Regions from separate parts of the Homo sapiens genome. Here region 1 is linked to region 2. Evidence: fine-mapped QTL for protein levels in blood plasma. A gene starts in region 2. The other region holds a variant in brackets. All regions are shown on one strand. Distances are from middle to middle.

Region 1 (5,290 bases), 17 kb after region 2:
TTGGCCTTATCCCTAGGGTGTGTGGCTATTTGAGCGACTCTTTGTGGCACTGCCAGGGAGATGAGAGAGACCAACGGGCTGCTCCAGGAAGAGCTGGAAGGGCTGCAGAGGAAGCTGGGGCGCCAGGAGAAGATGCAGGAGACGCTGGTTGGCTTGGAGCTGGAGAACGAGGTGAGGGCCTGTGTGGTGTGCGGTTCCTGTGGGTGTCCTCTGCCCTGCCTGGAGGAGCCTCGGTATTGTGGTCACGCCCACCAGCTGCTCACCTACAACATGGAGGTTGCTGTGATGGGGTGGGAGGCAGAATCGTGGTCCCCAGAGAGGTCCATGCCTCATCCTCAGAGCCTGTGAACACAGCACCTTCCCTGGCAGGGCGAATGAGGTGACTGGTCAGCTGGCCCACGGCGGGGAGGGGCTCCTGGGCCATCCTGGGGGCTCAGAGTGATGTGAGAGGGACTTGGCAGCTCTTGCTGGGTGTGGAGATGGAGGACGGGCCACAAGCCAAGGAATGTGGGTCATCTGGAAGCTGGAAAGAGCAGGGAAGTGGACTGTCCCCTGGAATCTGCAGAAGGAACACAACCCTGCCAACACCAGGATTCCAGCTCGGGGAGACCCGTTTTGGATTTCCGATCTAAAGTACTATAAAATATTACATTTGTGGGCTTTTTTTTTTTTTTTTTTTGAGATGGAGTCTCGCCCTGTCCCCAGGCTGGAATGCAATGGTGCGATCTCGGCTCACTGCAACCTCCGCCTCCCGGGTACAAGCGAGTCTCCTGCCTCAGCCTCCTGAGTAGCTGGGACTACAGGCGTGCGCCACCACACCCGGCTAATTTTTGTATTTTTAGTAGAGATAGGGTTTCACCACGTTGGCTAGGATGGTCTTGATCTCTTGGAACTCGTGATCCACCCTCCTCAGCCTCCCAAAGTGCTGGGATTATAGACGTGAGCCACCATGCCCGGCCAGGCTTTTTAAATGTTAAATTTTTTTTTGTAGAGATGGGGTCTCCCTGTGTTGCCTAGGCTGGTCCTGAACTCCTGGGCTCAAGTGACCCTCCCGCCTTTGCCTCCCAAAGTGCTGAGATGACAGGCGTGAGCCTCTGTGCCGCACCAATTTGTGTTGTTTGAAGCCACTTAGTTTGTGGTGATCTGTTTCGGTTGCAGCAGGAAACTGGTACAGAGGGTGAGTCAGAATGCGTGTGGCACTGTGAGGATCAGGGCTGGCAGGGCCCTGTGCTGGGGGTGTTCTGTCTTCACCGCGGCAGTTGGTAGGAAGGTGTCAGTGCTGGAAAACATCCTGCAGTCATGTTGCGGGCAGAGGAGGAAACTGAGGTTCAGAGAAGCTCCCTCTCTTGCCCGGTGCACAGCAAGTTTGGACCAGAATTTAGGCCTTCTGGCCCCTGCCTGGGTCCTCTGTCCTTCATGCCACTTCCCTGTGGCCACAGCCACTCCCCTCTGTGCCTGGCACACCTATGCCGCCTTTCTCCGGTGGTTGTGGGGCCTGGCAGGAGGGCAGACTCCATCTGCAGTGCTCTGCAGCTGCCCAGCTGTCCAGCTGGCCACTTCCAGAGTCCCCTTGGGTGGCGTGGCGTCTCTGTCCTCTTCAGAGCTGTGATACAGCCAAGGTCGTTTTGGGGCCTTGGCCCTGTGACCCACGGTGAGGTGGCTCCCTGTCAGCGGGGGTATCTGGCAGGGACTCTTCTCTCAGGTGCTGGGTTCTGTAGGAGCTTAGCCTGAAAAGACAGCTCCCATGCGACATCTTTTCTCTCTCCCGCGGTGTAATTTATTGTTTGATGGTTGAAGAGTTGGGGCTCTCAAGCCACATTCCGTAGTTGGGTGCTTGCTGCTCCATGTCCCTGGGCCAGCTCCTTCATCTCCCTGTCTGTCTCCCCGTCTGCACAGGGAGGAGTGGTGCTGGCTGCCTTGTCAGGACTGTGAGGCTCACATGAGTCTATGCAAAGTGCTCAGAGCAGTGCCTGGCGCGTAGCGAATGTTCTGTAGCGTTGGCTGTCATATAGTTACTAGTCAAGTGCGTGCCTGCGCATAGGAGGGGCTGTGAGAATACCTCACTGACTTGCCGAGTGGAGCGTTGATAACAGCATGGTGCTTGGCACTGGGTGGAGGTGAAGCGAGGCCAGAACAAAGGCACAGAGTCCCTGCCCTCAGATTGCTTCCGTCCTAGAAGGGCCGTGAGACTCACCTCTTTGGGATGCGGCTCAGCATGGGACAGGCATGTGACACAGAGGGGTGGGCTGGCCTGTAGGCAGTGT[C/G]TCACCCTCCCTCATGCTCCAGGGTGGCTGCCCTCCTCTCCTAGGGCCTGCTGGTCCTGGTCTGCTGTGTGATGGCAGGAAGTTTGGCTCCAGGACTGAGTCTGTCTGCTCCAGGGCTTGGTTCCCTGAGGAGCCCCTGGAAGATGGGGGAGGGATGAGTCCTAACGGCTCAAGGACCCGAGGCTGCTCCCTGGGGCACAGTCAACCCCAGGATCCTTTCTGAGGCTGTCTGCCTTCTCCCTCCACAGCCACACGTTGCTTTTAGCTTGCTGGGATTCACACTTGAATTTACGGGGCCAGGAAGGAGTGAGGCAGGAAGCGCCAGTGTGGCTTCTGCAGTTGGGGAATAATAACCCGGCCACTTCCAAGCAGACTTGGAGCATGTAGCGCCCAGCTCAGAGATGAGGGCAGGCTCTCCTGAGAGGTCAGGGACTTAGCACCGTGATCATGATTGTCAGTCTTATGTGATGATCCTGTGGCAGGTGATGACAGGGTCTGTGCTTTTGTTGTCTTTTCAGAGGCTGCTGGCCAAGCTGCAAAGCTGGGAGAGACTGGACCAGACCATGGGCCTGAGCATCAGGTAGGGAAGGGCAGGTGTCTCCGGGGTCCCGCCTTCTTTGAAGGGTCCTGGGTGAAGAGCAGAGCCTGCTTCCGGCTCACCAGCGCAGTCTCCAGCCAGGCATCTCTGTGGCTGGTGCGGGGCATTTGTCCTGGGCTGCTCAGGTTTAATGAGGCCTTTCCCAGCGGATGGGGCAGTGGAACCCAGTGACTCATCCTGCTGAAGCCTTAGTAACATCTTCATTCAGAAGCGGAATATCCACAGCAAACCAGTGGCAGGCGTCTGATTGCCCTGCGTTGCGGGGCTTTGTGAAAGGACTCTTTTTGGTGTATACCGAGGAAATAATTGCTTTTGGGGGAAATCATTCATTTTAGGGAACTGTAACCAGTGGAGATGAACTGAGTTTTTAGAATTAAGAAAAACCCACTGTATTAGGCTGTTCTTGCATTGCTATAAAGAAATACCAGAGACTGGGTAATTATGAAGAGAAGAGGTGGAATTGGCTCACGCTTCTGCAGCTGTACAGGAAGCATGGTGCTGGCATCTGCTCGGCTTCTGGTGAAGCCGCAGGGAGCTTTCAGTCATGGCGGAAGGTGAAGGGGGAACAGGCACGCCGCAATGCAAAAACAGGAATGAGAGAGCGAGAGAGTGAGCGAGCGTGAGTAGTGTTGGGAGGGAGGTGCCACACACTTCTAAATGACCAGATCTCATGAGAACTCACTATCATGAAGACAGACCCAAGCTGTGAGGGATCCACTCGAGGATCCAAACACTTCCCACGGGGCCCCACTTTCAGCACTGGGGATTACAATTCAACATGAGGCATGGGGCAGGGACACAGATCCAAACGGTTCTCACCCACCATAGTGGAAGACGATTGTCTGGTGCTTGTAGCAGCCTCTTCACGCAGTCTGTGCCAAGCTGAGTGCCAGCGCTTGGGTGGTGGGATGTGGGGTGGAGCTGCCGGGGGACCACCCTGGGTGCTGGGGATGGTATTCTTATAGACAGGTAGCTGGACCGTTCCCAGGTCTGGTCCTGTCTGTCCTCCTGCCCCATCCTTCCCAGGACCCTGTGCTCATCTTTCTCCAGCAGCCGCTCAGTTGGCCCCTGCCCTTCAGTCGCGGTGCCCCTGCAGGTGACCACCTCCTGGCAGCTCTGGTCTGGACCCCTCTTCCTGGTTGCCCTGTGTGCGCCAGGTCTCGAGGAGGTGCAGGAGCGATGCTTTTGAAGGAGCCATCAGAGCCCGGGGCTCAGGGCCCGAGGTGCTGGTGCCGAGGCGGCCTCTTATTGTGTTTGCTTGTGAGATTTCAAGGCTTCCCGCTTCTTGCCTGTCTTTCCTGCTGTTCTTGGAAACTAGGCTGAGACTGAGACTCTCTGAAAGAGCTATCCTTTGACCACACCGTCCGACTGCTGGTTCTGGAATCCATTACCTTCTCATCAGCATTACTGGCTTCAGTTCTCTGTCACCTGAAAGTGCCTCTTCATTTTCTTTGAGCTTTGCTAAGTCAGAGCACGGCCCGGGCTGCTGTCTCCTCTTGAACTCCCCCTGTAGAACACAGACTTCTGTAGGGCCGGCCTCAGCGGGGCCTAAATGCTTTGTGCTTCTGTCTGTTCTCTGGGCTTATTAATTGCTTGGAAGGCGACCCTTCTGCTCCCAGGCATACTCTGGCCAGATGAGAAACCTCTGTGACTTCTTTCCTGTGAAGGGACATCAGAGGCCCCCACGTGCCTGATGGGCCCGGCCCTGCTGGAGGGTCCAGTGTGCAGTTTGCCCTGGAGCACTGGGTGTCAGTCGGGCACGAGACCTGGCACAGCTGGCTGCTGTCTCTGGCTGGTTTCAAAGTACTGTGGATCCTTTCAGCCCTGTTCCCGCATCTGAGCGCCCTGCCTGGGCATGGCTTGTGTGAGGGCGAGCTGGCCTGGGGGTGCTGCCTGGGCGTGGCCAGCATGAGGGCATGCTGGCCCCAGGGGTTCTGCCTGCCTGTGTCTTCTGTGTTCACTCTGCCCTCCCTGGTGGCCAGGCCCTGGATGAGGGAGAGGAGGGGTTGGTCTGTAGGGCTGGTGGAGGTGGGCTGCCTGTGCCCACCACCAGCTTAAAGTGGGCGGGAAGCAAGTGGCATGCATGTGTGGCGCCCTGCAGCTTTGATGAGGAACACAGATAGTTCTTCGGAGGCTGGATTCAAGGCTCCCCCTGCCCCCCGCCACCAACAGTAAGACCTGTGTCAAGTCACTGCGCTGCTCTGGGCCAGTGTTCTCTTTATTGAAAGGGGGACACGGAGCTCTTCTCCCCAACTGCGTGTGAAGATCCGACGTGATCGTGTACTTGTGGAGGGCCCTGTGAGTTGGAGAGGGGCTGGTGCGAGCGTCCTCTCTGAGCAGCCGGAGGCTGATGGCCAGGAAGGTGGATGGAGCCGTCCTCGCTGTGGGGGTCGACCCCTAGTCTCCTGCGTTGGCCTTGGCTGTGGGC
Region 2 (5,298 bases):
CTCAGCCTTCGGTTCCGAGTCCTTTCCGTGCGGAGTCTCCCAGGGGTGGCGGCTCCGGGTGCGGACGCGGAGTCCCCAGGATCAGCCGGTGCGCAGACTCGGTTCTTTACGGCCCGATTGCCACGCAGGTCTCGCGAGAGCGCAGGCGCAAGTGTCGCGATAAATGGGCGCCGGCGGAGCGGAGGGAGATCCGAGCGGCGGCGGCAAGCTGGCTGCGAGCGGCTGAGGTAAGCGGCCCGGCTCGCGCGGGCGGCGGGGTCCCGGGGTCCCGGGGGTCCCGGGAATGGCAAGGGAGGGGCCGAGGGCCCGGACCGGGTGTGCTCGCCAGGGTGGGGCACAACGACCCAGACCCCGTGCCTCAGGACCCCGCGCCCGCCCCGTCTCCCATGGGCGCGCTCTCCTCTCTGTGCTCTCCCCTCCTCTCCCCACTCCCCTGTCCCCACTCCCCCTTTGGGCTGTGCTGGGGACAGCGGGCCCCTCGCCTGGGTCTCCGCAGCCGTCCCTTGTGCCAGGGCGGGCGGCCGAGGGGCGCGTGCTCGTGGTCCCAGCCCCGGGGTCCCGCTGCCTACCGTGTGGGTCCCCGGGCTAGGGTGCCGGCGCGCCGAGGAAGGGGCCTGAGCTGGCGCCTGGTGGAGAAGTCGGGGCTGCAGGGGCTCTTGGCATCCTGGTGGCTCGCGCCGGTCCGCTCTCAGGAAGGGGGCGTGTGGGCCCGGTTTCCCCTCGGGGATGGCAAGGGCCACCCTGATCTCGTTTGGGCAATGGAGGAATTGGGCTGTGGAGCCTCCTTCCAGGCGGGCCTGCCTCTGCGGGGCTGGCAGCCTGGGGAGCTCAGGCCTCTGCTTGCACCAGGCCAAGGTTCTTGTTAAATGGAAACTCAGAAACTGTGCAGCTGCAGAAGTTCTACCTTTGGCTTTTAAACGCGCTTGGCTGTTCCCTAGTTGTGGCTGGTGGGCCGGCCTGCCATGAGCCCATAGTAAGCGCCGGTGTTGGGGGTGCAAAGTTCTTTACTGCGGTTTGTCTTCAGCCTTCCAAAGCCAGACAGACCCAAGTTCCAATCTCCGTTCTGTAACTTTTTGAAGCTTCGGTTTCATCATCTCTAGAATCTGTGTAAAAAGACCTAATTCACCACCCTGTTGAGACTGAGCTTACAAATATAGTGCTGGTCAACCTGCAGCCGTATTCCCATCATCTAGCGGTGGAAGACTTGAGGGATATTGGCCCCGTTCCCCACAACTTTGCAAGTAGATTTCACTGTCATGAGTTTACAGATGAGGAAACTGAAGTTCAAGAAGTCTCGGTGCTCGGAAATGTCAGATACCTTTCTTTCTGATACCTAGTTGAAAATAGTAGTAGTACTTATTAATGTCACTAGAAATAAACAATGAAAATGAGCACAGCTGTGATGATCATCATCTTTACTGTCACTGTTGCATGCCTCGTTTCTGATTCCCAGAGGCCAGATTTTTTTTTTAATTAATTATTATTATTTTTTGAAACGGAGTCTTGCTCTGGCACCCAGGCTGGAATGCAGTGGCGCGATCTCAGTTCACTGCAACCTCCATCTCCTGGGTTCAAGAAAATCTCCTGTCCCAGCCTCCGGAGTAGCTGGGATTACAGGTGCACGCCACCACATCTGGCTTTAGTAGAGATGGGGTTTCACCATGTTGGCCAGGCTGGTCTCGAACTCCTGACCTGTGGTGATCTGCCCATCTTGGCCTCACAAAGTGCTGGGATTACAGGCATGAGCAACAGTGCCTGGCTTATGTTTATTTATTTATTTATTCATTCATTTATTTATTTTGAGACACTGTCTCACCCCGTTACCCAGGCTGGAGTGCAGTGGTGCGGTCTCAGGTCACTGCAACCTCTGCCTCCCAGTTTCAAGCGATTCTTGTGCCACAGCCTCCTGAGTAGCTGGGATTACAGGCGCACACCACCACACCCGGCTAGTTTTTGTATTTTATTAGAGGTGGGGTTTTGCCATGTTGGCCATTCTGGTCTTGAACTCCGGACCTGCCTCCGCCTCCCGAAGTGCTGGGATTAGAGGCGTGAACCACCCTGCCTGGGCAAGAGGCCAGACTTTGCTGTGAGTGCTCCTGGTAGGTAGTTTCAGGCATCAACTGACTGGATTCAGGAATTCCTAGAAACCTGGGAAAGCATCATTTTTGGTTTTGGGTGTGCCTGTTGAGGGTGTTTCCAGAGGAGATGAGCTTGGGAGTCTGAGTGGACCAGGTGCTGAAGATCCATCCTCAGAGTCAGGGGCAGTATCTAAGAGCCTGGGGGCCTGGAGAGGACAAAAACAGAGAAAAGGCGAATGTGTCCATCTGCCTGCAGGAGCTGGGATACACTCTTCCTCTCCTCTCCTCAACAGCAGCACTCCAAGCTCGCCGGCCTTTGGTCTCCAGGACTTGTCCCAGCAGCCCCTCGAACTGAGAATTACACCATCGGACCCCTGGCTCTGAGGCCTTCAGACTTGGACTGTGTCACACTGCCAGGCTTCCAGGGCTCCAACTTGCAGACGGCCTGTTGTGGGACAGTCTCTGTAATCGCGTGAGTCAGTTTCCCCAATAAAGCCCTTCTCTTGTGTCTGTCTCTGTGTCCTGTTGGCTCTGTGTCTCTGGAGAACCCTCTTACAGTGCAGTTGGGGGACGTGCCACCTGAGTGCTGAGCCCCGCCTCCCGGGCGCCAGCTGTCCATCTGTCCATGTGCAACTGAGACTCAATTGGTGGCTTGCTGGTGGGGATTTGGTGGCATGCTTCCTTGCTTCCATTTTTTGTCTGGTAAATTGGCAGCATGGCTCCCAGTTGCCATTGAAGAATGTGGTTACAGGCATGGGTGTATTATGAGCTCCAATGTGCGTTAGGGGAGTGGGGCTGTCCAGAGGCTCTGCTGACTGCACGGCTGATGGCACGTGGAAAGGCTGCCCCTGACCAGTCCTTTGTCTGTCCCCGGAAGGAAAGCAACCATGGAAGACCTGGGGGAAAACACCATGGTTTTATCCACCCTGAGATCTTTGAACAACTTCATCTCTCAGCGTGTGGAGGGAGGCTCTGGACTGGATATTTCTACCTCGGCCCCAGGTTCTCTGCAGATGCAGTACCAGCAGAGCATGCAGGTGAGTGGCATGTGCCTGGGTGGGAGTCTGCTCTGGGGAGACCCTGGGCCCGGGCAGGACCTCTTCCAGTCTTCTGTAGTTGAGGTGGGTCGGTATTAGCAGAGCCTAGAGACAGCTATTCGTCTCCCAGGTCTCACTATGGGCACTCCTCATTTTGGGGTCGTAGCTGGAGGCTAGTTGGGGCCCTGAGCCATCCTGGCTTAAAGGCCTGCCTTGTTAGCGCCCTGAGTGGGCCTGGCGCTCAGCATTGCGTTCACACAAGTGCACTCACAGACCCTGGTGACAGGATCGGAAAGCCAGTTCATTCATCTAATTGAGGACAGAACCCAAACTGCCTGGGGGAGTGAGCACCAGGACTGTCGGGAAGGCTGTGTTGGAAACACAGTGCTGAGAGTGCCTGGGCAGCCCAGAGACAAAGCCACAGCAGTGAGCAGAAGGACTGGGTGTTTTGTGGTCTCAGACTGTGGAGGGCCATTTACAGATTTTGGGGTGATTTTTACAGTTTTCTTCTATAAAATAGTTGTATTTTGTTTCATTACAAGTTCTTGGGGTTTCTCACTGTAGACACAACTGCAGAGGATTCAGGCCTCCTGAAGGACTTCAGGCTCCAAAGAGTGATGAGCCCAGTCCCAGTTGGGGCTGCGATAATGGGGCCCCCAAGTTGTAGGGAGTGGTGGGGAGTGGAGTGCTGGCTAGTAGTGTCTCCAGCCTTGCCTGGGCCCTGTGGCTGCGCAGGCTCCTCTAGGCTCCTCTGCCTGGACCCTCTTTCCCAGTCCCTGCTGCGGTCCCCAGAGCCGTTCTGTAGTTCTGTCCGCATTAGAGGAGGCTCTGGCTTCCTGCGCTCTCAGAGCCCAGATGAGGCCCTGCTGCATTTGGTTAAACTGTGTGTGCGTGTGCATTTGTTTTGTTGCATAATTGAATTAATGTGTGTTTATTAGAATGCTAGCTTGTGGCCAGATGTGGTGGCTCAGGCCTGTAATCCCAGCACTTTGGGAGGCTGAGGTGGGCGGATCATGAGGTCAGGAGATCAAGATCATCCTGGCTAACACGGTGAAACCCTGTCTCTACTAAAAATACAAAAAATTAGCTGGGCGTGGCACCTGTAGTCCCAGCTACTCGGGAGGCTGGAGCAGGAGAATGGTGTGAACCCGGGAGTCAGAGCTTGCAGTGAGCTGAGATTGCGCCACCGCACTCCAGCCTGGGTGACAGAGTGAGACCCTGTCTCAAAAAAAAAAAAAGAATGCTAGTTGCTAGCTTGCTCACTGCCCTTTCTTGATGAGGACTGTTTTTTATTCTGAGATTAGGTCATATATATATATATGTGTGTGTGTATATATATAATATTTATGTAAATGTTCTTTTGTGAAATTATGAAGGTAATAGATGGTAGTTGTTTTTTATCACTGACAAAATGAGAAGTGGCCAACTCTGAGCTGGTTGCAGTGGCTCATGCCTATAACCCCAGCACTTTGGGAGGCTGAGGTGGCTGGATCACTTGAGGTCAGGAATTTGAGACCAGCCTGACCAACATGGTAAGACCTCATCTCTACTAAAAATACAAAAATTAGGCGGGTGTGGGCACCTGTAATCCCACCTACTCGGGAGGCTGAGGCAGGAGAATCGCTTGAACCTGGGAGGCGGAGGTTGCAGTGAGCCATCGCGCCACTGCACTCCAGCCCGGGTGACAGAGTTGGCAACTCTGGTCTGAAATGCTGTGATTTTAGTGTTGCGAATGTCTGGGACCTCTTGGCCTGTCTGTCAAAGCTGTGGGATTCTAGAGTCTGTCTTGGGGCTCGGAGGCCCCCAGTGCTCACTGGTAAAGGCCTCTCGGTGAGGGGATCAGTGATGGAGTGCGGTAGTCAGAGCAAGGTGGTGAGCGGAGTGATGGCGGCAAGACCAGCCTTGGTCCCTGGCCCCTGTCACATCCCATTCCTGGACTTCGTCGTGGTTCTCTCTCTCCTGCTGAGCCCCCGGCGTGGCAGGGAGGGCCTGGAGAACATGGCAGGCCGGGGGAATGTGTGCTGTCTGGTTTCTCACACATCGTGTTGATTTAACGTAAGGGTAAACTTTCAGGGTTCCTTTCTTTCCGTTGTAGTCAGCTCCAGGCAGAGGTGGCACACGGATCAGGTGTGTCTGGGACTCCTGGTCCCTGCCGGTCGTGCCCCCTGCAGGCGGGGTGCCCA

Which allele goes with the higher level. Positions count from the first base shown, and alleles are read on the strand shown. Strength reflects both the effect of a copy and how common the allele is.
In carriers of allele G in region 1, the plasma level of the protein whose gene starts at base 154 in region 2 tends to be higher than with C alone (moderate association).

The links. PIP is the posterior inclusion probability: the model's chance that the variant is causal. Protein levels are from antibody-based Olink assays in UK Biobank. Linkage for the fine-mapping came from a reference panel and not from the study's own genotypes, which makes the PIPs less certain.
Region 1: its variant is fine-mapped to the plasma level of the MAD1L1 protein (UK Biobank, PIP above 0.99).

What each region holds. Positions count from the first base shown.
Region 1 is chr7:2,210,766-2,216,055 of GRCh38, reverse strand. MAD1L1 (mitotic arrest deficient 1 like 1) reads left to right here. Exons shown (of 19, transcript NM_001013836.2): 9 at 57-171; 10 at 2,783-2,844. Among named protein-coding and RNA genes, the nearest start is that of MAD1L1, 20 kb to the left of the region's middle. The variant C/G (reference allele first, on the strand shown) is at 2,265.
Region 2 is chr7:2,227,801-2,233,098 of GRCh38, reverse strand. It overlaps MAD1L1 (mitotic arrest deficient 1 like 1), which reads left to right and starts at 154. Exons shown (of 19, transcript NM_001013836.2): 1 at 154-227; 2 at 2,372-2,550; 3 at 2,956-3,115. The coding sequence starts at 2,966. RefSeq lists enhancers at 36-165, 1-245 and silencers at 1-258, 236-655.